Linked DNA regions of Homo sapiens: regions 2 and 3 are each linked to region 1. The links come from fine-mapping of genetic effects on gene expression. A gene starts in region 1. Each other region holds a variant in brackets. All regions are shown on one strand. Distances are between the middles of the regions.

The links.
Region 2: its variant is fine-mapped to the expression of ATP6V1C1 in whole blood (INTERVAL, PIP above 0.99).
Region 3: its variant is fine-mapped to the expression of ATP6V1C1 in whole blood (TOPMed, PIP 0.98).

The regions. Positions count from the first base shown.
Region 1 is chr8:103,015,293-103,025,959 of GRCh38, reverse strand. It overlaps ATP6V1C1 (ATPase H+ transporting V1 subunit C1), which reads right to left and starts at 4,877. Exons shown (of 13, transcript NM_001695.5): 1 at 4,735-4,877. It also overlaps the pseudogene NPM1P52. RefSeq lists an enhancer at 4,438-4,647.
Region 2 is chr8:103,061,506-103,072,172 of GRCh38, reverse strand. It overlaps ATP6V1C1 (ATPase H+ transporting V1 subunit C1), which reads right to left. Exons shown (of 13, transcript NM_001695.5): 9 at 9,126-9,218; 10 at 8,945-9,038; 11 at 7,362-7,459; 12 at 5,726-5,852; 13 at 1-3,521. The coding sequence ends at 3,426. Among named protein-coding and RNA genes, the nearest start is that of ATP6V1C1, 46 kb to the right of the region's middle. The variant C/T (reference allele first, on the strand shown) is at 6,892.
Region 3 is chr8:102,975,201-102,985,867 of GRCh38, reverse strand. MAILR (macrophage interferon regulatory lncRNA) reads right to left here. Exons shown (of 3, transcript NR_126339.1): 3 at 7,992-8,281. Among named protein-coding and RNA genes, the nearest start is that of ATP6V1C1, 41 kb to the left of the region's middle. RefSeq lists an enhancer at 6,015-6,164. The variant G/C (reference allele first, on the strand shown) is at 5,654.

The DNA.
Region 1 (10,667 bases):
ACCACGGTACCACATTCTGCTAGAAGGTGCTGATATCTCCAATACAATGTATTTTGGCCTGAAATTCACCAACTTAAAGACTTTAAGATTAGTTTTCTCCAACTCATGACCCTAAGTAAGCTTGAGATTCTGTTTACTGGTAACAACTATCACTGAATATGTACCACATGTTGTGCCCAGTGATAAGCACTTGCATCTACTAAAGCAATTTTGTATTTAATTCCCTCACAAGATGTGTTATCACCACCCCCACTTGCAAATGAGGGAACAGCTGGTGAAATTAGTTGCCCAAAGACATTTAGTGACTACATTTTATTGGGATTAAGGGGACTCTATTTGAGTTATTCATGCAGTTTTACAAAAGACAAGTGCCTCAAAGAAATATTAGGATATAGTTTCAGTAATTTTACACTAAAGGAGTTACATTAAAACATCAAACACTAGATTTTAAATTACTTGAATTCCATTATATGCAGTTTATTAAAATATTACTTTTAACCTCTGTAACCTCAACATCTTAATATTTGTCCAACAAATAAACTGACACCACATGCATGTTTTGCACCAAATGGTGCCTCTCTCCTCCAGGAGGAGTCTGGAAATGTATGGGAGCATTTTGGGTTGTCCCAATGTGGAGATCGCTAATCAGCATTTAGTGGGTAGGGGCGAAACAGACCTCCAAACTGCCAATAGCACCCACATAGAAACACTAAACTATGGGCTGATTCAAAAGGAAAACCTTTCATGGTAAAGTTAAACCACCTGTTAACACGCCTTAATTTACAACTTCCTATTCATTGATAGTCTGTTTAAAATATCTTAGAAGATCCATCGATCCCTTTCTATAAAACATCACTTACCTAGCATTTTATTTTCAAATACACACACATACTCACACAGACACACACACACACACCCCACATTTTAGATATACAGTTAATACTCTTTTATCCCCGATGTAACCAAAGCACTTCTCCTCCACTGCCTACCTGGCTCATTTTTTAACTCAATAAATGCATAGTAACCAAAGCACCTCTCCTCCACTGCCTACCTGGCTCATTTTTTTAACTCAATAAACGCATAGTACATTTGCACATGGTATAATCTTAGAAGTAGATGTCCTGCTGGATAAAAAATTTTGTTTCAGCATCAAGAATATAGTTTGAAATTTCTAGTTCCAAGAATCACTCATGTCAATAGGAAATTTTAGACTGCCTTGGTTCACTGCCTAAGCGTCCCAAGGGCACTATGCTAATGTTTATACTATGTCTGTCTTTAAAAATTGATGAAAAATGGAAATCTAACATGAATTAATTTATAAATGATATATAATTCCACACCCAAAGAGTGAAAAAGATGTAACCTGTAGACAGATTTAAATATGTACAAGAGCAAAATTTTAAGTAGGAGGTACTCAGTCAAAACTGTAGTACTCCTAAGCAGAACCAAGTTCAAAAGAAGACTTGCTGCTTAGGGACGGGTAAACTACATGGAGACCTTTGGCAAAGGTTTACTTTGGCATTCCAGTTGGCCAATGGTATTATCTCGTGAGTTGTGGAAATAATCACAAAATCAGATTTTTGAAGCCCTGAAGTTTCTTTTTAGGTTGAAAAAACTAATGTACATGAGGCTCCTAAGACTAATATACCAAAAAAATAAAAATGAGTATTTTGTGCCAAGTTTTAAAAGCTGAATTACACTATCTAGCTCTCAGCATTTAGTTAGATCCTGAGTACTGTTTCTTTAGATTTTATCTAGTCCCTACAAGGTATACCAAAAGAGAAAAAGATCCAGGACTTCTGAGACAGAACCCTGAGGCTCAGTCTTCAGCATAATTTGAGACTCACTTTTTGCCAAAGAACTGTGATTGACAACCTGAGCACTTTCAGTTCACCTTATTGTTCATTATTTCCTCCAGATGAACTGTAAATTGAACAGCTCTATCCAAGATTATAGATAAGACATAGCCCACCACTGCCAATTCCTTTGAAGCTGTTCTACTAGAAAAAGTTCATCAAAAGTGCTGACTCTTCAGGGAGAAGTTCCCCCCCCCCAAAAAAAAATGCTGAATCAAAGACTACTGTGCACTTCAAAAAACTCGCCCTTTTCTCTAGATGTGACTGTGGTTAGTACTGTGTAGGTAATCAGCAGGAATACATCAGCAGTCAGAAAACTGTGGCAGTTACTCCGGACTCAGCCAAATCACTTTACGTGTTTCTCTAGCTCCAGGTTCCCATCTATACAATGAATAGCATTTTCATCCACTGTCTTTCAAAGAACTGTGAGAACAAAATAAATATGAAAGTGATCCCTCCCTGTAACTATATTTCAATAAAAGATATTCTGAAATAGATGACCTTACAAAAGGATAAATTTGAAAAGCCAAAACAAATTTTTGCAAAAGAGCCTCTGCTATGTACTTCAGGACTGCCTCGAGGGTAGTTACGACTACCCTGTGAAGGGTACAAATAGAATCGAATCATTCTTTCCCTTCCCCAAGTCCTGAACCCTCTAAAAGTGAATACAGTTAAACATTCTGAAGTCCTCAGTGGAGAGAGAAGGTATCTTGTCTTCAAATCCTTCAGTGGATTACAACAATGTTCCCCTGAGCGGGTCTCCCCTCATTCACTTTTGCCACCCTCCACATTATCTCCCCCCCACCAAAAAAAAAAAAAAAAAGCCACAACCTGTCTCAATCCACTGCCTGTAATCTTCACTGGCTTCCCTCTGTTTTTAGAATAAAAGCTCTGCTTGGCGTGACCCCAGCTTTCTCCACCTGCCTCTCTCCCTCCCCGTTTCAGCCATGCTAGCCTTTCAAAAAGGCTGAAAAGCTTTCTTCCTCTTCACATTTCAGGGCCTTGACATACGCTGTTGCTTCAGCCTGAAATGTTCCTTTTTCGTTTTTCAGAGACAGGGTCTAGCTCTGTTTCCCAGGAGGGAGTGCAGTGGCATGATCACAGCTCACTGCAGCCTCGAACTACTGGGCTCAAATGATCCTCTCGCCTCAGCCTCCCGAGCAGCTAGGACTACAAGCACACACCACCACTCCCAGCTAGTTATTTTTTTATTTTTGGTAGAGACGGTGGTCTCACTATGTTGCCCAGGCTGGTCCTGAACTCCTGGCCTCAGGCAATCCTCCCACCTCAGCCTCCCAAAATGTTGGGATTATAGTCACGAGCCACCCTGCCAGGCCTGGAATGTTCTTTTCACTCACACCTTCACATTCCCTTTTCAGTCTCTTTTCAGATCTCAGGTCAAAAGTCATACCCTCTCAGAGCGAGAGGGTATGAAGAATATAAATAAAATTGTTTTAATCTTTAAAAAGTCATATTCTTAGCAATGCCTTTTTAAAATCTTCCATAATACACATGCCCCTACTACACTCTTTCATACCACTGTTATTCCTTCAAAGCACATTTCACGCTTGCTTGATTTTTAAAATCCATCCCCTCTGCTTGCCTGTAAGCTCTATAAAGACAATTTTCTAAACCCTACCATCAGCACTGTACCTGCATACAGCATGTATTCAGTACACATTATTTGCATGAATAAGTAAACGACTACCATTCAAAAGTCCTCGTTACCTGACTCCCAACTTTCTTTCCCACTTCTCCGCAGTGCAATCCACTGTAAAAGCTACTTCTGACTCCACCAGAAGCATTCCCTACCCCCATCTTCAGGCTTTCAAATCCTGTGGCTTTCCCTGCCTGTAAAATTATCCCCATTTCTCTCAACCTGTTCAAATCCTGAGGGCTTGCCAAGACTCAAGTTTTCTTTCCTCCAGAATATCTTCCCATAGTGCCAGTTTACACATGTGTCGTTGCTCCACACTTTCAAAGCACTTCGCATTCTCTTTTTGGTAAGTATACATAAACTGCATCGTATTTTAACGTGTCCTGTGTGTAGACTTTTCTCTCCAACGTTAGTGCTAACTCCTAAGGATAGACTGTTCACATCCCACCCGTTCCATTCCCAGAGCGGCGCTAAGTACTGGGCTCGCACTGAAGCATGTGATTTTTCCCTAACATACCAGAATTTTCCTCTGAAAAGAATACTAGCTTCCCCCTTACTCCTGTTTCTCAAGTGATTCAATATGCCTTATGTGACTCTCACCAAGTTCTTTTCTAGGGGTTTGTTTTGTTTTGTTCTGTTTTGTTTGCCTACCCTCCCCCATTCTACTAAAAAATAGTTGAGTTCTCTGGATTCCTGTTCTTTCTCATTCCTAGAGGGACCTTGTGTACTCTGTGAGGGTTCCTTGCCTGCAGTTAGGGGCTCCTAGGCCTTTAAACTGTCATCCCACCACCCCCGACCCCCGACACCCGCGCCCCCCCCAACACACACCCAGTGAAGGCACTTGCGCTAGCTGTGACCTCACACACACCACTCCATAGCCTCACCTGGACCTATCACTTCATTCCCCTCAATCAATCAGGCGGCGTGCATTCCTACCCAAGAAGAAAGATCCCAGACCGCTGTATCTCTCCTTTCTGCCTGTCATTAACTACCCACGAGAGCTCTTTCTCTTTTTCCCTCCTTCTCTTCCTTAGAGACGGAACCTAGGCCCAAGACGGTGAATTGGCGCCGAGAAACCAGACACAGCCACCCAGCCAGCTCCAGCTCCAACGCCACGGTCTCTGCCCCCGCACCCACCCGCGTCCCTCCCAGGCAGCGACCGGAGCTCATGCTTCGGCCTGACCAGGACTCCCCATCCGGGGAGAGCCATCGCTCACTGACCCAGGAAGGTGTCAAACGAGGAAGTAGCAGCAGTAACAGGTACCGAGGCAGACAGCCTAGCGGACGCTATCGGCTCAGCGATCCATCCCTTCCCGACCTAAGCTCCGGCCTCACGGCTTCCTCTACCCAAGCGAACACAGAACAAGTCACGTGCCAGCCCAGCAGTCAGCTGACCGCGGCGCGCGCTGCTCCGCCTACGCCCGCGCCACTGCGCAGCCGCAGCCGCTGCCACTGCCGGGCCTTGGGAGAGGGGCGGGACTAGGAGGCTACGGGGCGGCAAGGGGACCCTATATTCGGGGCTGATCGCTGTTGTTCCAGAGTGGGTGGGGTTTTCCGCTTCTTCCAGTGTTGCAAGTGGCGTTTTGTCCACCACTTGTAAACGTCAGCGCCACTGCAGGTTTCTGCGGGTCAGAAATTGTCTCCAACCCCCTACAAGGGCTTCTCCACTTGGGGTTTTCTTCGTCAGCTGGGTTTTCTACCTAGTATACTGGCTAGTAGTTCATTTTAGCAGATTCACATTTTCCTGAAGTCCACTTAGACTTAATTTCATAAATGGTCCATGGAGCATTTACTGTGCGCCAAGCACTGCGCTCGTTCTTAGGATTGCCTACTGGAGAGAATCACTCCTTGCCACGAAAGCGCCTCATAGATAGTTGAAACCACATTAGATAGTGGGAAACCAAAGGTTTTAGGACAGAGGCATAGACAGGGGAAAGCATCTCCTTTGGAGAAAAATAGGTAACAAGCTCCTCCCAGGAACCCTGCTTATTTCATTAGCTTGGGGAGATAGATAGTAATGTCCTAATTTAGAACACAGAGTTTTAGAAGTAGTAGAAATTTTGAGATGTTCTAATTTAATCCTTTTAGATCTACAGATGAAGAAAGTGAGGGCACGGAGTTGTTCAGCGCAAGGGAATAGATACCAGGTGTTGAATCCAGGCTCTCCTACTTACTAGTTGTGTGACCTTACTCCTCTGAATTTCAGCCTGTTCACATGCAAAGTGGTGGTAATAATACCTTACACAGGTATTGTGAGGATTAAATGAAGCCTGTGGTTAGCACAGTGCCTGGTACATAGGAAACAACCAGTAAATGGTCGTCATTATTACTATGTATTATAGGACCCAGGTTTTCTGACCTATACTATGCCTTTTCTGCTGTGTCCCCCTACAGAAATTCACCACAGAATTTCTCAGAGCCTCAGTATTAGGTTGGACAGAAAGTAACAACCACCAGACTATCCCCAACCTGACGCTTTCACCAGTTTTGGATGAAGTTCATGCAATTACAATAACCAGTTCTATAACATGGCTTCAGAAACTTATCAGAATTCCAGAGGCTTTTATCTGCCATCACGAAATGAGCCTAAAGGCATTTTTTTTTTGGTTAGGTCCACTAAAACTTTCTGCCATGATGCAAATGTTATCCTGTGCTGTCTGTACAGTACCCACTAGCTACATGGAGCCATTGAGCACTTGAAATATGGTTAGTGTGACTTAGTAACTGAATTTTAAAATTTATTTCACTTTAATTAAAATTTAAATAGCCACATGAGACCAGTGACAACAGCCTTAGACAGTGCAGTTTTAAGGTCCATGCTTGAACTATCTTGGTTTCTTCGTGCTTGTGTGTGGTCCTGAGGCAGACTTTTTGTCTTGGATTCTTAATTTCTAAACTGAATTATACCTCGCGCAACTTTCCAACATTTGGGGTTTTTTTTTTAGTTTTGGGGTTTTTTTTGAGATGGAGTCTCGCCCTGTCGCCCAGGTTGGAGAGCAGTGGTGCGATCTCAGCTCACTGCAAACTCCACCTCCCGGGTTCAAGCGATTCTTGTGCCTTGCCCTCCTAAGTAGCTGGGACTACAGGCGTGCACCATCACACCCAACTAATTTTTGTATTTTTAGTAGAGACGGGTTTTCCTCATGTTGGCCAAGCTGGTCTCCAAGTCCTGAGGTCAAGTGATCTGCCCACTTGGCCCTCCCAAAGTGCTGGGATTACAGGGGTGAGCCATCGTGCCTGGCCTCCAGTGTTTTAATTACCATGTTATACTTGGGAGGCAGTACAACAGAGTGTTCAATAAATGTTAGCTCTAATTTTTATGAGGTTTAATGTATCTCACTTAAAAATTTAGGAAACATAGCTGGGCATGGTGGTGCATGCCTATAGTCCCAGCTACTCGGGAGGCTGAGGTGGGAGGACCCCTTGAGCCCAGGAGTTCGAGGCTGCAGTGAGCTAAAATTGCACCATACACTCCAGCCTGGGCAACAGAGCAAGACCCCATCTCAAAAAATCAAATAAAAATCTAGCAAAGATGTTTAATATAAGCAGGGCATGATTGCTCTCCAGTGGTTTCTAATAGTAAAGTAATATGTTTTTACAGAGAAGCAACTCACTTTTTAAAAACTGTACTATGCATAGAAGCATACTAGGTAGCCATGGGCATGTCACACCTTTTCCTCCATTTCCACCTATCTAAAGACTACTCATCTCCAAACATCTAAGTTTAAAGCACTCCTAAGATGCATGGGAGAAGATTTATTTTTTTCTTACAACTTTTTCCGGGGAAAAAATTTATTTTTTCCTTTATTAAAATATTGAGCTTATTTCAGTTACATATTTTTGTCTTCCCACCATTTCCATTTGTCTGACCACAGCTACTACTATGTCCTATCATAATATTCCATACATACATATATACTGAAAACCAAGCAAAGAGCCAGGCGTGGTGGCTCACACCTGTAATCCCAGCACTTTGGGAGGCTGAGGTGGGCAGATCACTTGAGGCCAGGAGTTTGACACCTTCCTGACCAACATGGCAAAATGCCATCTCTACTAAAAATACAAAAATTAGCTGGGTGTGGTGGTGCATGCCTGTAATCCCAGCTGCTTGGGAGGCTGAGGCAGGAGAATTGCTTGAGCCTGGGAGCCAGAGGCTGCAGTGAGCCAAGATAGTGCCACTGCCCTCCAGCCTGAGTGACAGAGCAAGACTCTGTCTCAAAAAAAAAAACAAGCAAACGATGGAGTTTCATCTTTAAAAACTACAGGGGCATTTTGGACAACACATTTTTGGCAATGGAACCTGGACAATATTTATCCAACGTGCTAGGGAACTTCTCACTCTGAATTGTAAAAAGGACAGTTAGATATCAACTGTTACAGAAATGAAATGACAGATAATTTTTTTCTCTAAAAGAACTATTAACGAAATGACAGGTAATTTTTTTCTCTAAAAGAACTATTGGGTTAAAAGATTTAAAAAAAAAAAGAAGAAAGAAAATTTTAACAAGCTGTTTAAACTATTTTTTTTTTTTTTTGAGACAGAGTCTCACTCTGTTGCCCATGCTGGAATGCAATGGCGTGATCTCTGCTCACTGCAACCTCTGCCTCCCAGGTTCAAGCGATTCTCCTGTCTCAGCCTCCCAAGTAGCTGGGAATACAGGCATCCACCACCACGCCTGGCAAATTTTTTGTATTTTTATTTATTTATTTATTTATTTTTGGAGAGACAAGGTTTCACCATGTTGGCCAGGCTGGTTTTGAACTCCTGACCTCAAGTGATCTGCCCACCTTGGCCTCCCAAAGTGCTAGGGTTACAGGCATGAGCCACCACGCTTGGCCTAAACTGTGTTCTTAAAGAGACTTCTTCCACTGCCAGAGATGGTGAATAGCCTCCTAGTTGGTCATCCAGAAGTAATTCTTCACATAATTGATGCACTTAGCTTTGGGAAGAGAACCAACTTTTTCTATACTTGCTTGCATTTTTGCTTTTAATATATTCTACAAAACTAGGTCCTTTTGGTGTTTTAAGAGGTTTTTTCCCCCTGTTTTTGAAGGATTCTTGACCTTTTGGTCTTAATCTTGATAGTTCTGAGTCTTTTTTATTTTGGTTTGATCTTTGTGCATTTTTTGGATGGAGTATCCTGTATAAATTTCATCACTAGAGCTTTTTCTTCAGTTTTCCCTTCATCAAAATGTTCTTCCTCTTCATCATCATCATGATTTTCATCAGCAAGAAGTTTTATTTTTTTCTTGTAGAAATGTACCCACTTCCAGGGGCAGATCACTTTCCAGATATACTGAAAAGTCTCACATCTCCCTCCTCTTCATGTCCTGCTTTGTATCTTCCTTCATACCTGTTAAGTGCTGTGTACTCATATGCCCAGGCCCTGAAACACACTGAGTGTAAGGCCACAGGCAATGTTATTTCAAAGCCCCCAAGATAAACCATTGACTGTACATACCTTTTTAAAGTTGCTAGTATTACTTTAATTGGACTGCCTTCATAGTTCATTACTTCTGCTTCAACAATATAAAATCCATCCTTTCTACCAGCCCCTAAACTGACCATTCTTAAAGATAACTTGTGCTCATTTTCATCATTATCCACCTTAAAGTGATAATCTTTGTTGGCCTCTAGTCACAACCAAAAAGATAGTTCTGGGGCCTCAGGAGGCTGATGTCCATGTCCGTCAAATCTTCCATGGGTGGCGGCAAGCACTTAGGTAGGAGAGAAGCCAGGCAGAGGTAAACAACCACGCTCCAGAGAACAGCTGTGCAGGATGGAATCATACCAGCAACCAATTATTTTGTTTTTTGATTACTGTTTTCTTTTTTTAATTTTTTAAATATTTTTTAACTTTTATTTTAAGTTCAGGGGTACGTGCGCAGGTTTGTTACATAGGTAAACTTGTGTCAAGGAGGTTTGTTGTACAGATTATTTCATCACCCAGGTATTAAGCCTAGTATCCATTAGTTAAACAAAGTGGAGAAAGTATTTGAAGCAAATAGGGCAACAGGATTCAGAACTCTTTTTCACTCTGGTATAATAGTCAAGATATCTTGAAAGTTGTTACTGGCATTTCCCTTAGGAAACTAAGTGTCCTTGTTTAAGAAAATACCTTGATAAACTAATATCTTCCACTAGGGTGGAAGAAAAACTGAGAGTATGGTTAAATGGAGGCAAAGACCAAAGAAATAACTTGAGCTAGTTTCCACTGAAAAGCAACAGAAATTGGAGAATGAAGAGATGGGAGAGAGGCATAGGGAAGAGAAGGAAAGAAAGAGAAAAGAGAAAGACAAATGACAAGGGACTTATAAAAAGAGGAATATTTAGAACTCAATTTGAGCTTACTTCAGTTGCTGTGATTTAAATCCTTTGCCATCTTCCCAGAGCTTTAATAAAGTCTACGCTCAAATGCCTTTATGCAAAATTCTTTTGTAGACATATATGCTATCCAGGTTATAATATACAGAGAGCTTGAACAAATTGATAAAAGCAATACTAAGGGCTGAGCACGGTGGCTCATGCCTGTAATCCCAGCACTTTGGGAGGCCAAGGAAGACGGATCACTTGAGGCCGGGAGTTTAAGACCAGCCAGGCCAACATTGCAAAACCTTGTCTCTACTAAAAAATACAAAAATTATTAAGGTGTGGTGGTGTATGCCTGTCATCCCAGCTACTCAGGAGGCTGAGGGATGAGAATTGCTTGAACCTGGGAGGCAGAGGTTGCAATGAGCCAAGATAGCGACACTGCACTCCAGCCTGGGTGACAGAGCAAGACTCTGTCTCAAAAAAAAAGGAACAATACTAAGACCATCCAAAAGACAAATGAGCAAAAAGCACAAAACAGTTAAGAAAAAAAGAAGTGCTATTGGCTATAACATACGGGGAATATTCACTCTTACTAGTGCTCAAAAATATAAATAAGAACAATACAAAATTTTATAAACACAAATATTAAAATAAATAGAAATAACTCATATTAGCAAAGATAGAAATATACACATAATAGCCAATGCTGGTGAGGGTGTGGTAAGATAGACTCTTACACTACTAGTAGAAATGTAAATTGGTACAACTCTTTGGTCAGCAATTAACAGTATGAATGAGAGGCCTTTAAAATGTTTGTTCCATTTGACTGTCATTAGAATGT
Region 2 (10,667 bases), 46 kb before region 1:
AGCTGGAATATGTTCCACAAAGATTGGTTCCACAAATATCTTTTGTTCCACGAAGATTTCAAAGTGTGGAATGTGTTCCACAAAGATTTTCTGCTGAAGAGCAACTTCAGCAGGGTAGTAAAGAGGTAGAAAAATCTCCTAGGTTGAATAACTGAGGCTACTGAAATTGGCATGCAAACAACTAGACACATTATCTAACCCATCATAGATGAAATGTTCTGGACTCTGGGTTCCTGCCAAATATAATAGCAACACAGGCCAGGCGTGGTGGCTTATGCCTGTAACACCAGCACTTTGGGAGGCTGAGGCGGGAGGATCCCTTGAGCTCAGGAGTTCGAGACCAGCCCGGGCAACATAGTGAGACCTCATCTGTGCTAAAATTTAAAAAATTGGCCAGGCGTGGTAGCACGCACCTGTAGGCCCAGCTACTTGGGGGCTGAGGTGGGAGGATTGCTTGAGCCCAGGAAATCGAGGGTGAGGCTGCAGTAAGCCCTGATCATGCCACTGCACTCTAGCCTGGGTGACAGAGCAAGACCTTGTCTCAAAAACAAAACAAAACAAAACAAAACAAAAATAGCAACACAAGTTAACATCTGATTCTCCATACCGAATATCTTTCCTATACCATTGTCCATCTCGGACTCAGGTTAAGCAATGTGTCTGGCTCATTCACACAACAGTTGAGTGTGGGGCGGGAAGTGTGACAACCAGCAGTCAAAAATCTTAGGTTCAAATTCTGACTGGCTCAAGATTTGTGACTCAACAAAGAATTCACTTAACTTCTTTCACCTGAAGTCTCCATACATGAAAATGGGGACCGCCAGTACTCCCTCCATGAACAACACGGGGAGGGGCCGGGAGGATGATGTGGATGTGAATGATCCCTGACAGACACTCAGTAAATGTTTAATGAGTCTGTTATCTAAGCACTATCCTCAAGGAGAACCAGCAGACTCCTCGGGAAGGTAAGTGGCTTGGGACAGTCCCTTTCCAGGAATGGTGACCGCCACCAACAATATCAATAATCCAGCACAGACTGGAGCTCAGTGACACAAACTGCTCTGTTGTTATGTTAGACACAATGACTTCCTTCTAACCCTCAGACTCTACAATGATGTGGATCTGGATTTTCCCAAATTAAACACAGTGAAAAGGAACTACCTGTGTTCCCCAAGGGCTAAGTACCTGCATCAACCTCTCACCATGCACCACTCGCAGCACTTTCTGTGCACGTGGGGTCACACTGACTCACCCCAACATCCCTAATGCGGTGGGCACTCTAATCATGCCCATTTTACAGAGGAGGGACTGGAACTCGGAGACCACTCTGCCCAGGACCACACAGCTCGTCAGCAGCAGAGCTGGGGCCTGGCCTCAGAGCACATGCTCAGCCACTCTGCTATAATTTCTCTGGTGGAAATCACAGTGAAAGTCCCGTCGTTTCAGACATATGCTGGGATTCTAAACCTTATGCAGTCTGTACCTACTCTCATGAGAACAACAGTAAAGTCTAAATAAAACCTTAAAAGTCACTGTGTGGCTGAGCTTCAGGTTAGTGACATGTTTTTCTTAAAAGTCAATTTAATGTCAAAACATGCCCCCCCATGATAGAGAGAGTAGCGCCACGTTACAGATACTAAGACTCAAAGAACATGTGCAAAAGACAAAGAACCAAAATTTTCTGATAGCAAAATCTTTCACAGCTTCCTCTTGTCCAAAGAAAAACTGAAGATAAATCCACACTCCAAACATGTCTTTAGTTTAGAATTCTGACAGATGACTTGGCAGTGAGTGTCAAAAACTTAAGTGTACATAACCTATGACCCTACAAATTCCACTTCTCAGATCTTACAGAAATACTAATACAAGTATACAAAGAAATCTGTGCAAGGATGCTGACTGCAGCAGTGTTTGTTAAGAGCAAAAACTAAAAACAAGCAGACTATCCATCCACTCGGCTAAACACATGATGACAGACACTCAATGGAACGCCACGCAGCCAGTTAAAAGAATGAGGTAGCTCCAGCTTCACTGACACAAAGGATTCTCTTAGATATACTCTTAAGCAAAAAAGCAAGTGACAGGATGTGTGTGGTATAATCCTATTTTATTAAAAATAAACTGTGTGTGTGTATACGTGTGTGTGTGTGAGACAGAGATGTAAAGACATAGAAAAGGGCCTAGAAAAATACATAAACTTCCCTTGGGAGGTGGAAATTGAGGGAGGGGGTCTCTCATGTTCTACATTGTGGATGTCTGTATTTGCTTGAAATTATTTATGAAATAATATAATATTTTGAAACAAAAGATTTTGGAGGCTAATTTTCTAAAGGGAATAGCATAGCTTAGATATGCCCCTAAACTGAAATGTAAACTTTTTTCCCATTTGCAAACCTGTGAGTACGTAGTAAGAGAAACATTGCCACAAAATCCTCTTTTAAAAGCTCTTTCAGGACACTAAATTAAGTCATTCATTTCTGAGATTTTAAAGGCCAACAATGTCTCTATTTTCAGACTATGTCACAAATGACATAAATGCCAAAATTATAGATCTTAAGAAGACAACACATAAAATACAGACTTAGACAAAACAAATGACTAAAGCTGCATAGTTCTGCTAGACTTTATTCAAAACTGGCTCTATTCTTAATTATTTGAGAGACCTAAAATTCTAGTGTTCAAATGTAAATACCCATCATATACTGAAAAGTCATCTTCAAATTTGTGTTCTGACCCAAATTTGGCTCAATTAAATCATACGAAAGTCAGACAACACAAATGGTTACACCTCAGCATATAACAAAATCCTGGAAGCAGCATAGCAAGTGAGCTATGACATCATTTAACTCTCAAACAGAACTGTAATCTTAAGTTACACACACCACAATACACCTTTGCACAGGTAATTTTATTCTCTCCTGTGGGTGTTGACAGTGCTCATTGATTGAAATTTGAAACGTTCAGAAATCCCATACCTGAAGATGGTCACATATTCTTTACATCATGATTCAGTAACTATTCAACAGTTATGTCTACTAAATACAGTGAACAAAACAGTATAAATGTTTACACCATTCCCCTGTGAACAGGGCTTTTGTGCACAATAGTAACAAATGGAATTAATGCATACCATGATATCAATAAGGAAGAGACCTTCTCTTTAAATAAACTATTTTGTTTATAAATAAACTCTGATTTTTTTAGTACACATTTACAGACCTGATCAATAAAAAGAAACTATATATATATATTTTTTCCTTTAAAAAGAAAATGTTGAGATACAGACCACTGTGGGAGAATTCACCTAGGAAAGGGCGTAAGAAGCAAGCAAAGGATACTAGAGTTAAAAGTACGACCATACTGCAACTTATTTCTGTTAGCACACACAAACACAAGGACAGGATTGTCGGGGGAGGAGCCCATTTTCACTTGAATTCCAGCAAGTTGCAATCAATCTTGTAGTACACATAGGGGTAGTATTCTTGTTGACTCAGGTTTAAACCTGGAATATCCATAGGAGCCTATGGAAAAAACAGACAATTATTCAATTTTGTATTTACAGAACTCAAAAAAAGAAAGCAAGTATTAACATTTACCTTTTTATTGAACATCTACTCTGGGCTAAATGTATGCACTTAAGGCTAATTTATCTGAGTTAGACATTATTCCCATTTTGCAAATGAGAAAACAATCTCTGAAAGACTGACTTCTCCTAGGAAACACAGACAGTGAGTGGTAAAGCCAGGTTCAAGCATTCTGACTGCATATGTATTTAGCATGATCCCACCAACCTTTTTTATGTATACTGTAAAAATTAACTTTTTAAATCTTGGACTTAGAATACTGAGTTGATGGGATACAAGACTTACAAAATATGGAGTAAAAATAAAGCAAGTATGATTTATAAGTAATACTTATTCTGTAATATCAGCACTTTGAGAGGCCAAGGCCTTGAGCCCAGGAGTTCAAGACCAGTCTGGGCAACATAGTGAGACTCTATCGCTACAAAAAATAAAAATAAAAACATTAACCAGCAGTGGTACTGCGTGCCTATAGTCCCAACTACTTGGAAGGCTGAGGTGGGAGGATCACTTGAGCATAGAGGTTGAGGCTGCAGTGAGCCAAAACCATGCCACTGCATTCTAGCCTGAGCAACAGAGCCAAAAAACAAGCAAGGATAACACTTATTATAAATGCATGTTATAAGAATTTACTGCTAGAACATTTATGTATCAAATAATTATACCTCTCATTTTATCCACAATTGCATGAAAGTGGAGCAAGTTGGCCGGGGGCAAGGTGGCTCACGCCTGTAATCTTAGCACTTTGGGAGGCCGAGGTGGGCGGATCACCTGAGGTCAGGAGTTCAAGACCAGCCTGGCCAACATGGTGAAACCGCAGCTCTACTAAAAATACAAAAATTAGCCAGGCATAATCCCAGCTACTCAGGAGGCTGAGGCAGGAGAACTGCCTGAACCCAGGAGGCAGAGACTGCAGTGAGCCAAGATCACGCCACTTCACTCCAGCCTGGGCAAAAGAGCGAAACTCCATCTCGAAAAAAAAAAAAAAAAAAAGAAAAAGAAAAAAAGTGTAGCAAGTCATTTCCCGCATTTCCTTCTATCAAGAAAAACTGATTTTTCATAGTTCTAATTAATGCCTATGTGAGATGCTACCATCTACCCTAAACTTTTAAAGAGAAAAAAAAAAATCAGCAAGATATTTAAAACCAGAAATATAAAGTAAAAGCCCACTACAATTTTTTTTTTTTTTTTTTTTGGGACGGAGTCTCCCTCTGTCACCCAGGCTGGAGTGCAGTGGCGCAATCTTGGCTCACTGCAACCACCCCCCGAGGTTCAAGCGATTCTCCTGCCTCAGGCTCCCGAGTAGCTGGGATTATAGGTGACCGCTGCCACGCCCAGCTAATTATTGTATTTCTAGTAGAGACGGGGTTTCACCATGTTGGCCAGGCCGGTCTCAAACTCCTGACTTAAGGTGATCCCCCCGCCTCGGCCTCCCAAAGTGCTGGGATTACAGGCGTGAGCCACCACGCCCAGCGGCCCACTACAATTTTAAACAGCAACAACAAAAAAACACAAGTAACTCTGTTTATATCTTCTTTTGTTTAAAAAATAACAGTTTTGTTTAAAAGAAGATATAAACACATAATACATTTTTTGGTCTGTTTTTTTTTTTCTTTTTTCAGATGGGATCTTACTATGTTACCCAGGTTGGTCTCGAAGGCCTGGGCTCAAGTGATCCTCCCGCCTCAGCCTCCTCAGTTGCTGGGACTACCAACATGTCCCACCACGCCCAGCTACGCCATTTTAGAAAAATGAACCTACCTTGAAAATACTCATCTATTGACTCTATCGCTTCTACCAAATAAAATTAAAATAACTGCTTATTTTCTTCCTCTCTGCAATTTATAGTTTTTGTAAATAACTAGTATCACTGGTTTCTGTATTTCTGCAGCTATAAACATCTGATACACAGCAAGATAATTACTAGCTTGTAGAAATGCCAAGAAGCAAAACACAGATATAATTAGTATAAAACAGGGTAAACAATGTAAATTACTATGTTTACATAACAAATTGAGAACCTCAAAGTAATAAAAAATGATTAAGTTTCATACTTACCCTCCCTTTTCTGTCTATCTTCTTTCAATCATTTTTTTTCTGAAATTCACTTCAATTCTTACTCTACTGGGCTAATAAGTACTTACATCAATAATAGCTGCTGCACTGCTGTCTAGATGTTTATACAATTCATGTAATACTTCTCTCAGTTTCTTCAAAGTTTTCTTATTGGGCTGAAGTAGCATTGCTTGGAAGTTCACTGGCAAGCCATACCTTACAAAAAAGCAGAAATACAGTACGCAATACAAGCAAACATGTAAAGAGATTTTCTTTTCAAAGCAAATATTCTCATACTCTTTAATCATGGTTAACGGGGAGAGAATATCTCCCTTTACCTTTACAAGTTCAACTAATATATATAGAAACTGAAACTAATATACACAAAAAACTTCAATATAAACAGAAACGCAAACCTTTGGTCCCCACTGTCCACTAGAAATCTCTACGCCAATTACTAGGAATTACTTCAATTACCATTCATTTTTTTTTTCTTTTGAGACGGATTCTTACTGTTGCCAGGCTGGAGTGCAGTGGTGCAATCCTGGCTCACTGCAATCTCCGCCTCCTGGGTTCAAGCCATTCTCCTGCCTCAGCCTCCTGAGTAGCTGGGATTACAGGCACATACCACCATGCCCAGCTGATTTTTCTATTTTTAGTAGAGACGGGGTTTCACCATGTTGGCCAGCATGGTCTCAATCTCTTGACCTCATGATCTGCCCGCCTTGGCCTCCCAAAGTGCTGGGACTACAGGCATGAGCCACCACGCCTGGCTTACCATTCAATTTTTAAGGTAATATATGAATATCCTCAGGAAATAAGAAGAAGTAAGGTCAGCAGATACTTTTATGGTAATAGCATGAGGTTACCCACATATAGTTTGAAAATTTGAAAAAATTTAAAAATAGTGAGCATGGTTACATGTAAGTTTTGGGGTGTTTTTTTGTTTGTTTTGTGTTTTGTTTTTTCAGGCGGAGTCTCGCTCTGTTGCCCAGGCTGGAGTGCAGTGGTGCAATAGTGCAGTGGCACAATCTCGGCTCACTGCAACCTCCACCTCCTGGGTTCAAGTGATTCTCTGCCTCAGTCTCCCAAGTAGCCAGCACTACAGGCGCGTGCCACCACACTTGGCTAATTTTTTTATATTTTTAGTAGAGACAGGATTTCACCCTGTTAGCCAGGATGGTCTCAATCGGACCTCGTGATCTGCCTGCCTCAGCCTCCCAAAGTGCTGGGATTACAGGCGTGAGCCACTGCA[C/T]CCGGCCAAGTTTTGGGTTTTTTAAAACTATTTCTAATATGAGCAACCCATACATTGGACCAGAATATGATTTTTTAAATATCTCAAAATATTAAAATACTTTAGGTTAATATGAAATGATTTCAATAAGTCATTAGCATACTATGTATCCAATGACATATAAAACACCTGAAGGATCTTCCTTTTAAACAAATATTGGTTAATATTTAATCTACTTTTAAGTACCTACACAAGAAAAAGAACCTGAGGGTATGGCAGCATAAATCTCTTTTTCTAAACCTGGTGCTAAAGAACAAGACTAATATGCATTTTATAAGCTGTATGATGATACTGATAATCTCTGTCTCATGATTGGCCCTTTGATTTCTCCAAATCAATTTCCTATTGCTGGACTGTGTTATAATAAAGAGGTCCAATGTAAGGAATCTATGAACTCTTCAGTTCCAAGTTTGGCAATTAACTTGCTTTACCTTAAAACAGACTCAACGAAAACCCGTAATGCTTTCACGTGAATCCATGCAATAAATGCTTCACTAAAATTCACTTTCAGCCACCGTACAAGTGGTCCCTATAAAAAGAAAAAAAATTACCACAAATTTGGTCTTAGAAATAGCAATTAGATAGACCAAATATTTTTTTAAGTGACTACCTATTAGGAATCTATAGAAGAATTAAGTCGCATAATTCACTTTCTACATGTTTCACTATTATTCTCATTATCTCAGATACCTTATCTTAAATTAGATTAAAAGGTTCGCCACTACAGAGAGATCTCAACAGACACTAAAATGCATTGAACCAATTCACTAACACAGAAAAAGGTATATATTTTAATAAAAGTAGTTAAAATGGTACAAAATATAGAAATGCCTTAGGTTGGAAAATCAAAATATAAAGATCTGAATTTACTACACAACACTCTAAAACATTTAATACATGTAAAATGAAATTCAACTTACAAACAACTTCTTAGTAACAAAGATAAACAGTTATGTAGGCAAGTCATTTAACAGCACTAGCTCTTAGTTTTCCCATCTGTAAAAAAGGGAGTTGGTCTAGACATCTAAAACCTCTTTACATTCTAAATTGTATAGCGTTAAGTTCTTTTTAAACTTCAAATATTTAGTAGGATTAAGCGGATTTCAAATACCTCCTCTCTCCATACTTAAAAGATTCAGCTAACACTTCCTTGGATAACATTATTAGGCTCATTTGGATGTACCAAACAATTAATTTAAGCAAAAGGATAGCAAAACAAGTGAAAATCTTGTCAAAATATCTATTTTTTAAAAGGATTTTGGGTTTGCCCTAAAAAGCTGGTTATTTTGACATTACTTGGTTAGAATGAGTTTCCTCCTAGTTGAGATGATATGGCTTATAAAGTACTTGGAAATAATTTTCAATATTTCCCTTAATTTCCTCTTACATTATTAAGAGAAACACATTTTCACTCATTATGTTTCCCTTTCCAAACAAGCTTTTAGTCTTCACAGTAATCCCACACTTGAAGATGGCAAGAAAGTTAACACCATCTTTGATTTTCACAATTCCACTCGTTTCCCATTACACCTAGAACACACCAATTCTCCAATAGCTTAAATACAAATTGCTTCAATAAAAGATTGAGGCATTGAAAAAATCTGCCTCAAGAAAGTGAAAAGTCTTACTGAAAAGAACTTCGTTACTTAACTAAAATCACCCTTCACCTACAAGGATGTTAACCAGAATACTGCATTTAAAATTAATGTCTGATATGGATTTAGGTGGAGTAATTTCTTTTTAAGTATGTATTTTAGGATAACTATTCTATCTACTCTATTCTATCTCAGATAGACATAAGCTTTAGAAGAAAGCTTTCTTAGAAATAGAATAGTTATCTCTAGAACAGTTAAGCTTTAGAGGAAATTCATTCTGATTATTCAATTAAAAAAAAAAACTAAAATCAAATGTCTTAAAACCAAAGCAGATTTTTACTTTCTTTTAAATCAAAGGAAAGCAATACCACTTTTTCTTCTGCTTAGTACTGATAATACTAAATATTAAAAACACATACAAATTGTTTTTTCTTATCAGTAGAAAGCCTGTTCATTTCTTCTTTATCTGCTTTCATCTCCTCTTCATTATACTGGAAGTCACGAACAATGAATCTAAATTTGGGGGAAAAAAAACAAAATTGTTCACATTGTATACAGCTGATCTAACAAAGTAAATAAACAAAAAAACAATAATCTTACTTGTTTTCTCTGGCTTTGTGTCTGAAGTCATCAACTGCCTTCCTAAACAAGGTGACATTACACAGGTAACTGTCTTGGTCCTCTGAAAGAACACTATGGAAAAAAAAAAAGTCCATTTAAAGATTTATACGTATTGCTGTCTTTCATATTAAGGGCAAAATTCAGAAACAGGTGGAAGAGAAAAGTAGGGTATAATAGCCCTTCCCAAATCACCTCAATGCTTTTCAATCTGGATTGCCTCAAACACCGAAGATACTGAATGTTTATGATTTATTTTGCTTATGATACCTTAACACTCTACATTTATTTCTTACTAACCAACAAAATTAGACATTAACTCCAGTAAAGCATCCAAACGCTAAGAACCACACTTTTCAATCAACATCAGCGCCAAGCTGCTTTGTTTCCAGTGTCTCCTTGATAAGCACACTCTTCTTTTCTGGAAGCCTAATTCTTTCTTCCTTTCTCCAGGCCAACTCAGCCCCACTGATGCCCAGCCTAGCCTCTCTGCATTGCCAGTACCTTAAACCTTGGATCTTTCCTTTGCTCCCATGACATCTCTCAATCAAAAACTGACAGGCTGGGTGCAGTGGCTTATGTCTGTAATCCCAACACTTTGGCAGGCTGAGGTGGGTGATTGCTTGAGTTCAGGACTTTGAGACCAGCCTGGGCAACATGGCAAGACTGTGTCTGTACAAAAAATACAAAAACTAGCCAGGCGTGATGGTGCATGCCTGTAGTCCTAGCTACTCGGGAGGCTGAGGTGGGAGGATCACTGGAGCTGGGGAGGTTGAGGCTACAGTGAGCTGAGATTGCACCACTGCACTCCAGCCTGGGTGACAGAGTGAGTCCCTGTCAAAAAAAAAAAAAAAAAAAAAAAAAAAAACCCTGATGAACACAACTGTCTAAATAATCTCTGAATAAAAGTGCCTGTATGCATCTCATGGCTCCATTTTAGGCTTTAGAAGGTCCCAGTGAGGTCAGAACTTCCATTCAGTCACAGCTCCATGGACATCACTAGAAAGACCTTTCCAGACACAACTGCCAGGTAATTTTAATGGTCATTTAAATCTGTAATACCTTGGGTGAAAGTCCACTGTTTGAAAGGTGAATGGTATCGCTTGTGATAGTATGGTCCAAATTTGGCTTTCAGAATTTACCTATAGTGCCTCCTGTATAGAAGTCCTTATGTGAGGTCCACAAGGCTGCACAGGCAGCTGTTCCACAGCGATAACCTTGGGGCAGGGGAATGTTACTGAGGGGAATCTCTTCTCCTTTCTGTCTTTCACATACTGGAGTTCTTCTAATGTTTAGTGTTTTTTAAACAGCTTTACTGAGATATAATCGTTATACAGAAAACTGTACGCATTTAATGTCTATAATCTGAAGTGTGGACATACGCATATACCCATGAAACCATCACCACAATCTAGACAATAAACATACCCCTCACTACCAAAAGGGTCCTTGTGCCCTTTTGTTGGTTGTTTTCTTTGTTTTTTAATGTTCAGTTTTACAATGTGGTACTTCTGAAATCAGAAA
Region 3 (10,667 bases), 40 kb after region 1:
TTCAAACTCCTGACCTCTAGTGATCCACCTGCCTCAGCCTCCCAAATTGCTGGGATTACAGGCATGAGCTATGGCCCCTGGTCCCCAATCTACTTCTTTTTATTATTATTATTATTTTTTGTGTGTGTGTGTGTTTTTTTTTTAGACGGAGTCTCGCTCTGTTGCCCAGGCTGGAGTGCAGTGCCGCGACCTCAGCTCACTGCAAGCTCCGCCTCCCAGGTTCACGCTGTTCTCCTGCCTCAGCCTCCCGAGCAGCTGGGACCACAGGCGCCCGCCACCATGCCTGACTAATTTTTTTGTATTTTTAGTAGAGACGGGGTTTCACCATGTTAGCCAGGATGGTCTCGATCTCCTGACCTCGTGGTCCGCCCACCTCGGCCTTCCAAATTGCTGGGATTACAGGCGTGAGCCACCGCACCTGGCCTCAATCTACGTCTTACAACAATTAGCTTACAAAAGCCATAGGCTTCCATGGAAAGACTCCAATTTTCTAGAGGAAATGTCCACTGTTGCCTGCAGAAGAAACTTTCCTGTCACCTGAAAGAATGAAAATTATTCAAAGTTTCTCTTGATCCATGTCTAAAAGACAACTAAGAGGTTCCTTTGAATTTGCAGGATATTGTAGGTCTTAGGTCCCAAATCTTTCCTTGTTGGCATCTCGCTTGTATGAACTTGCACAAAACTCTGACCCAGAGCCTTTAGCGTGGGAGGATAATCATGAACAGGCTTCAGCCAACCAAAACTGGCCCTACCACAACCTCCAGCCTTAGGACTCTGAAATTATAGCAAACCTGTATCACTTTCACTTCATTCATTCATGAACATAACAACGAGGCTTTAGAAATTCTTACTTAAGAACACAGAGGAAAACATAGGCCCATCACTTAATAGGCTGCAATTAGACCCAGTAGCTAAGGTGGATCCCAATTGTTTAAAGGTAGTAGCAGAAGCATCCAGATTGGTTGAGGTCTCATCTGAGCTGATTTTAGGAAATGAATTTTATTCGCAAGCTCCACACGCTTTGGAAAGTCTATTAAATTCCAGTCAAACTCAACATTTCTCAGCAAGTAGACTAACATCTTTTGAAATTCTTCTCCTGTCTCCTTCTAATCTCATATAAAATGCTGCAATCTTGGCTGGGCATGGTGGCTCACACCTGTAATCCCAGCACTTTGGGAGCCTGAGGTGGACGGATCAGTTGAGGTCAGGAGTTTGAGACCAGCCTGGCCAACATGGTGAAACCCCATCTCTACTAAAAAAATACAAAAATTTAGCCAGACATGGTGGCAGGTGCCTGTAATCCCAGCTATTTGGGAGGCTGAGGCAGGAGAACTGCTTGAATCTGGGAGGCGGAGGTTGCAGTGACCCGAGATTGTGCCACTGCACTCCAGCTTGAGCGACAGAGGCTCCGTCTCAAAATAAAACAAAATAAATAAATAAATAAATAAATAAATAAATAAAATAATGCTGCAATCTACTTAACCCTTCTACCCTACTACCCTTACTTGACAAAGGTGAGGACCACAACTATGTAAATCTCATATCACAGCTATTGACTCCTCAACTGATTTATAAGATGCCCCATTAAACACCTTGAGATAATACATTTTGCTGATGGATTTTATGCTAAAAATGCGGAAGTAAAATACCAAGGAGGGCATGCCTGGACTACCCAGAATGAATTAACAGAAAAGGGAGCTCTTCCCCAGTTGAAGTCAGCCCAACCAGCAGAGGTACATGCTCTCACTCAGGCCTGTCAAATATCTCAGGGCAAATCAGACAACATTTATACAGACAGTAGATAAGCCTTTGGGGGTAGTCCATGATTTTGGCATGTATTAGAAGCAAAGAGGGGTCCTCATTTCAAGTGGGTCCACCACCGAAAATGAGCCCCAGGCAAATGAACTTCCTTCTGCTATTTTGCTGCCCTCACAAGTTGCTATTATTAAAATTGAAGCTCACTTGTAAAACTGAACCTAAATATCAAGACAATGCCTTAGTGGACTTCCATGCTAAGGTAGCTGTCACTAAACATGTTAGGATATATAATTTGGTTGAACTCTATAACATTAATTCAGATCAAATCACCTATGATAATTTGTTAAATAAACGATTCTATGCACCTGAATTAGAAAACCAAAATTGGCACTTAAAAGGATGCAAATTTAATACCAAATGTGAACTCACTGAGGGCCCTGACAGCCACCTAGTCCTCCCTAAGTCCTTAAAACTACCAGTATTAAAGGCTCTGCACTCCACAGCTCACCAGAGTGTAGACAAAATGGTTCAAATTATGAAAAAGTATTGGTGGAGTAATTGTTCTAAAGTTGCAAAAATGGTTCATAACCCAAGTCTGATTTATCAGATTCATAATTCTGTGAAAACCATTAAGGTTTCAAACGGTACATTTCTACCACCTGCTGGACCATGTGAACACCTACAAAAGAACTTCATTTAGTTGCTACCCTCAATGGGCTACCAGTATGTTCCTGTAACTGTATGCCTGTTCTCAGGGTGGATTGAGGCCTTGCCATGCAGGAAGGCTGATGCCACAACAGTAGCAAAAAAAAAACAACACAAAAAAATACAAAAAACAGAGCATATGTTTCCTTTATGGGATATCCCTAGAAAGATTTCCAGTGATAGAGGAACTCATTTTACTGGACAAATTTATTATTATTATTATTATTATTATTATTATTATTATTATTATTGTTATTGTTATTTTTGAGGCAGAGTCTTGCTCTGTTATCCAGGCTGGGGTGCAGTGGCATGGTCTCGGCTCACTGCAACCTTCGCCTCCTGTGTTCAAGTGATTCTCCTGCCTCAGGCTCCCAAGTAGCTGGGATTACAGGCATGTACCACCATCTGGCTAATTTTTGTACTTTTAGTAGAGACAAAGTTTCACCATGTTGGCCAGGCTGATCTCAAACTCTTGACCTCAGGTGATCCGCCTGCCTTAGCCTCCCAAAGTGCTGGAATTACAGGCATTAGCCACCACGCCTGGCCTACTGGACAAATTATTAAACAATTTTTTTAAAGGTTTACAAACAAAATAGCATGACCATTGTCCTTATCCCTAGTCTTCTGGAAAGGTTGAATAGGCAAATGGCAACCTAAAACTAAAATTGGCCAAAATGATGGAATCTTCTGGATTGCCTGGCCAAAAGTTTGAACACTGGGCTTAATGGCAATTATATCTACCCATGCTGGAAAGCACAAGATGACACCTCATGAAATAGTACTGAAAGACCTATGCCCGTAATAATACAGCTTCATGTACCTCCCATATTTGTAACCTGTGGTATGACTCAATATTGCCAGACCTTGATAAATTATGCTGAAGCATGCAATAAGTTCTCACAACATCATTGATCAGCTCTTGGAAAGTGTGATTTTAAGCAAAACAATGTATAATAAAACAAATTTAATTTTTCTCATCAACGTTAAAATGAAACAACATTGAATGAAATACATTATTCAAGGAACACTGTTTTGCTTAAAATCATTGTTTCCATAAAACTATCAACGACGACATCAATTGAGGACTTACTGTATTTCTATCTGGTAATAGTAGCTTTCTGTGACCCACTGACTGATTATCAGAATCCTCATGGTCTAGAACTTGGAAACTGGGTCTTTTGGAATTTATATCAAAGAAAGTCTGCCCTTGAGTCTCACTGGAAGGGACCACACCAACTTCTCACCACTTACACTACAGTAAAGCCTTGAGTTTTGGACCAATGTTTCTCAACTCAAGAGGGCCCTTCCAGACTCTCAGAACTGACCACCAGTTAAGGATCTCAAGGTAAAGTTGGCCAGGAACATCTCTCCCCAAAGCAGATGGCATCTTGAATGTAGACAGCCTTCCCAAGATCAGAGATCAAGAACCTCCTCTTCCTGGGGTGGGTGCAGTGGCTCACGCCTGTAATCCCAGCACTTTGGGAGGCCGAGGAGGGCAGATCACGAGGTCAGAAGATCAAGACCATCCTGGCTAACACAGTGAAACCCCGTCTCTACTAAAAATACAAAAAATTAGTCGGGCATGGTGGCGGGTGCCTGTAGTCCCAGCTACTCGGGAGGCTGAGGCAGGTGAGTGGCGTGAACCTGGGAGGTGGAGCTTGCAGTGAGCCGAGATAGTGCCACTGCAATCCAGCCTGGGTGACAGAGCAAGACTCCATCTCAAAAAAAAAAAAAAAAAAGTACCTCCTCTTCCTATCATGGAACCCCTGTTCTTTTCATCTCCTGTTTCTTACTCTTCCTTTCTGTGTATGGCACGATAATGCCATAATTAGAATCTCACAGTCTATAGCTTCTGCAGAAAATTTAGCTAAATTCTGGATTTTCCATGCTAAGTCAAAATACTTGCATGGCTTTTTAGAGACCCATTAGTATATCTTGTGACTCAATTTGCCAGAATCTCAAATGCAACAATCTGTTTAGATTATACTGTTGGTCCCTTTATAGAGTTAAACTTCTAGACCCCTTTATTCTTACTTCTTGTTTAACCCAACCATAGAATAGGATGGCCAGGTCTGCTGACCATATTGCAAGGAGGCTATGCACAAAAAAGGAGAACATTAACAGAGCTATTTACAAGAATGCCTATCTACATACGTATTTTGGTAGCCTTCTAGGACGTAATAACTCAGTATCAGTCTCTTGGTTAGAAACTGCTGATGCCAACTAATTACTCCATAACTGAAGTCTCCCAAGGAGGAGGCTTGTTCACCCTAGGTACATCCTTCCTACCACTGCCCTCCGCCACCCCACAACCAGGCTTTCAGGAATGTCCTAGGTACATCTTTATAAGCAGAGAATTTAACTGTCAGCCATATGCTTGGACCACCCCATACCTTGACAGATGGAGAATGAAAGACCAATGGGGACTAGGGATTTTAATGGTGCCATTGTCACTACATAACCAGTCAGAAGCTAAACATCAGTACACCCCTCTAAACCTGCATCATAGATTAAAAAGAAACTGACCAGCAGATGACAACCCTGCCAAGGGGGCATCATATGTTAGGTCCATTTTTCCATGGCTTGGGATGACTACAAATGAAATAAAGGTCAAAAATTTTTCTTTGACATTAGTTACTATTGCGGGTTCTACAGCTAAGGCTATAGCTATCCAACAAAAATCTCTAAATTCCCTTACTTGAGTAGTTTTAGATAATAGACTTGCATTGGACTATTGGCTGAACAAGGAAGAGTCTATGCAATATGCTCATTTTATCCTATTCCTCCTGTTGTGCCTGGATAAATACCTCTTGTATTAGAAACTCAATCACAAGAAATTAACAAACAGGCCACCTGGTTAAAACAAGTTGAATCCCCCTCTGGTTCATTCCTTGATTTATTCAATTTTAGCTGGTTTGATTCATGAGGACCTTGGCTAAGGAGCATACTCTAGTCTCTTGGTATTATCCTCCTGATGGTCATCATTGTAATCACCCTGTTTGCTGTATTCTGTCAAGAGTCTTAAATGCATGCTCTCAGCCATCAGTGGTACATTAGATGCTCTCACCTTGATCAGAGTGACAATAATGATGTGAACAACAAAGGGAATCTTTCTTCAATGAGCCTAACATCATGACTTGTGAGTTCCACAGAGACAAAGACAACTTACCTGTGATGGTGACAGGGAGGG[G/C]TGCCTATGCCTAAGTATTGTTCAGTCTCTCATAAGAGGCTGACCAAAAGCAGAGAATAATTGTTTTTAACAAAAATTCTAACAGGGAGGGCATTAGACTGTTAAAGCAAACTAAATATGGCCTGAGAAGGACTTCGTGCTTCTATATTTGAGTCCTTGTGGACAAACTGTAACTTAGCTTAATAGGCATACAAAATTGAAATCCTAATTTAGAAGCATGCACCTGTAACAATAGCTGCATTTTTGGCCAATCCCAGCAGCCATATTTCAGCCACTCATAGCCTGCTAAGTGTTGAAACCATGTTCAAATAAAGCAAATGCCAGCCTGTAACCAATCCAGCTGTTTCTGTACCTCACTGCTGATTTCTGTACATCACTTCCCTTTTTTTGTTTATAAATTTGTTCTAACCACAAGCCTTCTCTGGAGTCCCCGAATCTGCTGTGATTCTGGGGACTGCCCAATTCGTGAATCATTCATTGCTCAATTAAACTCCTTTAAATTTAATTCAGCTGAAGTTTTTCTTTTAACAAGACGGAGGCAACCCTACCACTTTAGGTTCCTATATGTAAGCAGACTGGAGCCCAGTGTAAAGAGTAAAACAAAACTAAAGACTACCAATAAGAAAACACCAGCTAACCTCTAACTAGGGTCTTTCCACCTAATCCAATGAAGTACACTTTCATCTTCCCTTTGTGTAAAAGCTCACTGCCCATGCTGCTGCAACAAAGCATTCTGAATTTCTTTTGATTCTGAGAACTACCAATTCATGAATTGTTCTTTGCTCAAAATAAACTATTAAATGTATATTATCTAAGGTTTTTAAACGTTAGTAATTTAAACATTAGAAATATTAAATTTCTACGTAAATAAACAACATAGAAAATAAATAGCAAGAGTAGACCGGGCACGGTGGCTCACGGCTGCAATCCCAGCAATTTGGGAGGCCAAGGCAGGTGGATCACCTGAGGTCAGGAGTTTGAGACCAGCCTGGCCAACATGGTGAAACCTCGTCTCCACTAAAAATACAAAAATTAGCTGGGCATGGTGGTGTACACCTGTAATTCCAGCTACTTGAGAGGCTGAGGCAGGAGAATTGCTTGAACCTGGAGGCAGAGTTTGCAGTGAGTCGAGATTGCGCCACTGCACTCCAGCCTGGGCTACAGAGTGAGAGTCCCTCTCAAAAAAAGAAAAAGAAAACAAATAGCAAGAGTAAATAAATTGTAAATGAAACAACAAGAGTCATTTGGATAGTGCTTACCTTCTTGTGTAACTTACGACATGGAGAGAGCATCTTTTCTCTGACGTGATGAATTGTTCTCCTTTCTAAGACTGGATCAGCTCCCAACATTTTATCCTTTGTGTTTTCAGCGTCATGAAAAATTTCCCAGAGTTGCTTCAATGTGAAGTTTCTGCCAGGACCGCTTCCTCTGAGACAGCATGCTTTTTGCCACACTTCCTTCCTCATTTATGTTAAGTTTGCCTTTGCTAAGTTCCTCTGGCTGCATATCCTCTTGAATGATGCAGTGGCCACATTCTCACAGTGAACTGTTTTTCTGTAACTCATTCAATTTGGAGTTCATTTCTAGCATTACTACTTTTTGGACTTTTTTCTGCGCTTTCATCTTTGTTGGCCAATTTCCTCTTTTGAGTATCCATTATTGTAAACCATCATGTGGCTTCATTCACAGGAAAATCAGCAACACAACTACACGCTTTGCTGTGTAGGAACTGAACATATGTGCAGTGGCCAATCATTAGTGGACTTTGAAAGGAGAGGTGTGATTGGTTATTGATCATGCTATGCATCTGTTATTTACATAGTGATTTGTGGACTAAAGAGCTGACAGTGAGGTTTGTACTTTGTGTAATTGTGCACAGTTAATAACGTTGTAGCTGAAATTTGAACCATGTTGTTGGGGTTCTGGTGTGATTTAACTAAATGGTGGTAACTAGGATTTGTGCATATTGGGACCATGCAAAGTGAGGACTAACTATACTTCCAACCCTTACCAAGACTGATCCAGCTGCTGCCATTATCAAATGTCTGATATATCTGCAACAGAGACCAACACTGAGCCCTTGATGTGACACCATTCCTCAATGAGACCAACTGGCCGCTTGATGGAAGCTGACTACCTTAGGTCTCTTCCACCCTGGAAGGGTCAGTGGTTTGATCCCACAGGACATATTCAGGTTATGAGTTTTCCTATATAAATGTAAATTGTCTAAACATCATTCTTTGTCACTGAATAGAATGCTTCAGAATATATATACTATAATATTATTTAGAAAAACATTTAAATAATGTAAAAACAATATTAAATATTGATACATATATAGAACTTTTGAAGTATTTTTTAATAGATTGATTAGATACACACTACACTCACTGCAAGGATTCAGGTGGTGGAAAATAAAGCAGTGAAGATCTCTTGCTTTGCAGAAATATTTCTTGGATTTCATATACTTTTAAGGCCATATTGGAAGCTGGCAAAGATCCCACTGAGTCCTGGTTGGTAAGTAAACACAGCCTGCTTTTTAGCTTCCAGCTCTTTGCAGAGAACCATGATCCTCCTTTTCCTTTCTCCAGGGCTAACCCACTTCTTCCTACGCTCAGATTTCTGATTCTGGAATACAAAACGTACACTGTGAAAGCCTGAGGGAAAGGAATGCCCTCCCACCCCTATCCCAGCCCTCCTATCCCCTCAGCCCCCACTCCTGTCACAATTAAGCACAATGGCAATGAGCACTAGGACCCCGCACTTGACCGTTTTAGGGACCCTCTGTCTGCAAGTGGGTGAAGAACCACTGAATCTTTCTTGTTTTTTAAATTTTTTTTTTTTTTTAGAGGCTGGTGTCTTGCAATGTCGTTCAGGCTGGAGTGGCACACTCACAGCTCACTGCAGCCTCGAATTCCTGGGTTCAGGCGATCCTCTTGCAGCAGCCTCCTAAGTAGCTGGGACTACAGGCGTGTGCCACAGTGCCTGGCTGAATCTTGTTGAGAGGAGCTTAGTCAGAACTGGAGGTCTACTGAAAACCACCCTAGTGAGTGAGGCATGGGCATACTAATCGTGCTCCACTATTGCCCAACATCCCAGCATCGGGGTTGCTGCTGGTACTCCTTCTACCCTGTTCGGTATGGGCTGTACGCTGAGCTCAGGGAGGGGCAAGAAGGTACAAGGACTTCATGTTTTCCAGTCTGGGCAAGGAAAGGGCAGACTGTCTTACTGCCTTCTTTGGAAAGAGAGGGTTTGGCCCTCCCTTTTTGCATAAACTGCTTAGACACGCAGCACTGTAAGAATACCCAGACTTTATTGCAAACTCTCTAAGATTTGGTTCAATCTGATTTATCATTTCCAAATTCCACTTAATAGAGTGTATTTCTTGCTGATTTTATTTTATTTATTTTTTACCCTGTCCTAACCAGAATGCTTTTGAGTTTCCCCTTGTGTTTTTTTTTTCCTCTCTCTCATAGGTTGAAATTATCAAGGAGTTTGAGATCTTCCTACCTGTAAGAGTTTGCAACCCAGCCAACGAAGGGAGTAAAAAAAATTATGTCAAAATATTTTACATACTGAATTTCAAAAAGCAATTATTTGAGATTTTTGAGACACTAATGTATTCTTTATACCAACTTCAACCAAAGGGATGGCAGAAAGCAGAAAAGACTGTTTCATTATTGAGAATAAAGATCAATTCTATTTTACAAAACTGGGATCTTTCAGATAAGTAAGACAAGGTTTGCAAAGCACCTGGTAGTTTGCCTGGCATATAGAAGGTGCTTAATAACTCAGTTGTCATTATGTTTTATATGTGCCATATTAACTCTACAGTGCAGTTTAGGAAGACTCTCACTCTCTCTAAACCAGCCTTTCTCACAGGTTAATGTGAAATTAAATTACCTGGAGTTTTGTTAAATTGCAGATTCTGATTCAGTGGGTCTGGGCTGAGGCCTGAAAGATGCTTTTTTTTTTTTTTTTTTTTGAGACAGGGTCTCATTCTGTTGCCCAGGCTGGAGTGCAGTGGCACAATCATAGCTCACTGAAGCCTCAACCTCCCAGGCTCAATTGATCCTGCCGCCTCAGCTTCCCAAGCAGCTGGGACTACAGGTATGTGCCACCAGACCTGGCTAAGTTTTTGTATTTTTTGTAAAGACAGGGTCTCATTATGTTGCCCAGGCGGGTCTTGAACTCCTGGGCTCAAGCAATCCTTCTGCCTCAGCCTCCCAAAGTGCTGGGATTACAGGAGTGAGCCACAGCACTCAGAAAGATGCATTTCTTTCTTTTTTCTTTTCTTTTTTTTTTTTTTTAACTTTTAAGCTCACAGGTACATGTGCAGATTTGTTACATAAGTAAACTTGTGTCATGAGGGTTTGTTGTACAGATTATTTCATCACCCAAGCATTAAGCCTAGTACCTATTCACTATTTTTTCTGATCCTCTCCTTCCTCTCACCCTATGTGCAGTTCTAACAAGCTCCCAGGTGTTGCTGATACTGCTGGAATGAGATCCACACTCGGAGTTATCAGGGTTCTACCTCATAGGTTGAAATGACTATTCCTACTCATTTCTAACCCTACAGTTGTATGCTGTTTGTTTCATCTCGTGTGCCTTGCTTTGACCCCCAACCATCCATTCAGATCCCACATAACATCCACGATACAGTTTATGCTCCACTCTCTTGATTAAACCTTTCTGCCAAATTATTATCTTAATAGATTAGTATTATCTCTAAAACGCTGAATCAAATTTAATTGGATTCCTCTTATCAGGATTGGTAAGAGGTTGGTTAGTTAACCTGAAAAGTTGGTTAAGGCAGGCAAATCATAATTTAAACATACCTACTTTAAACGTTTAACAGCGTTTAAATGTGCATTTGTTGGCCAGTTTTTTGACATGGGGCCTAGTCCTTTTGTTTGAGTAGACCTCCCTTGAGAAATATTCTGCCTCTTCTTTCTTACGCAAGCCATCCCTATATATATTGATTAATCCTTCTTGAGTTGTGAATTATTGT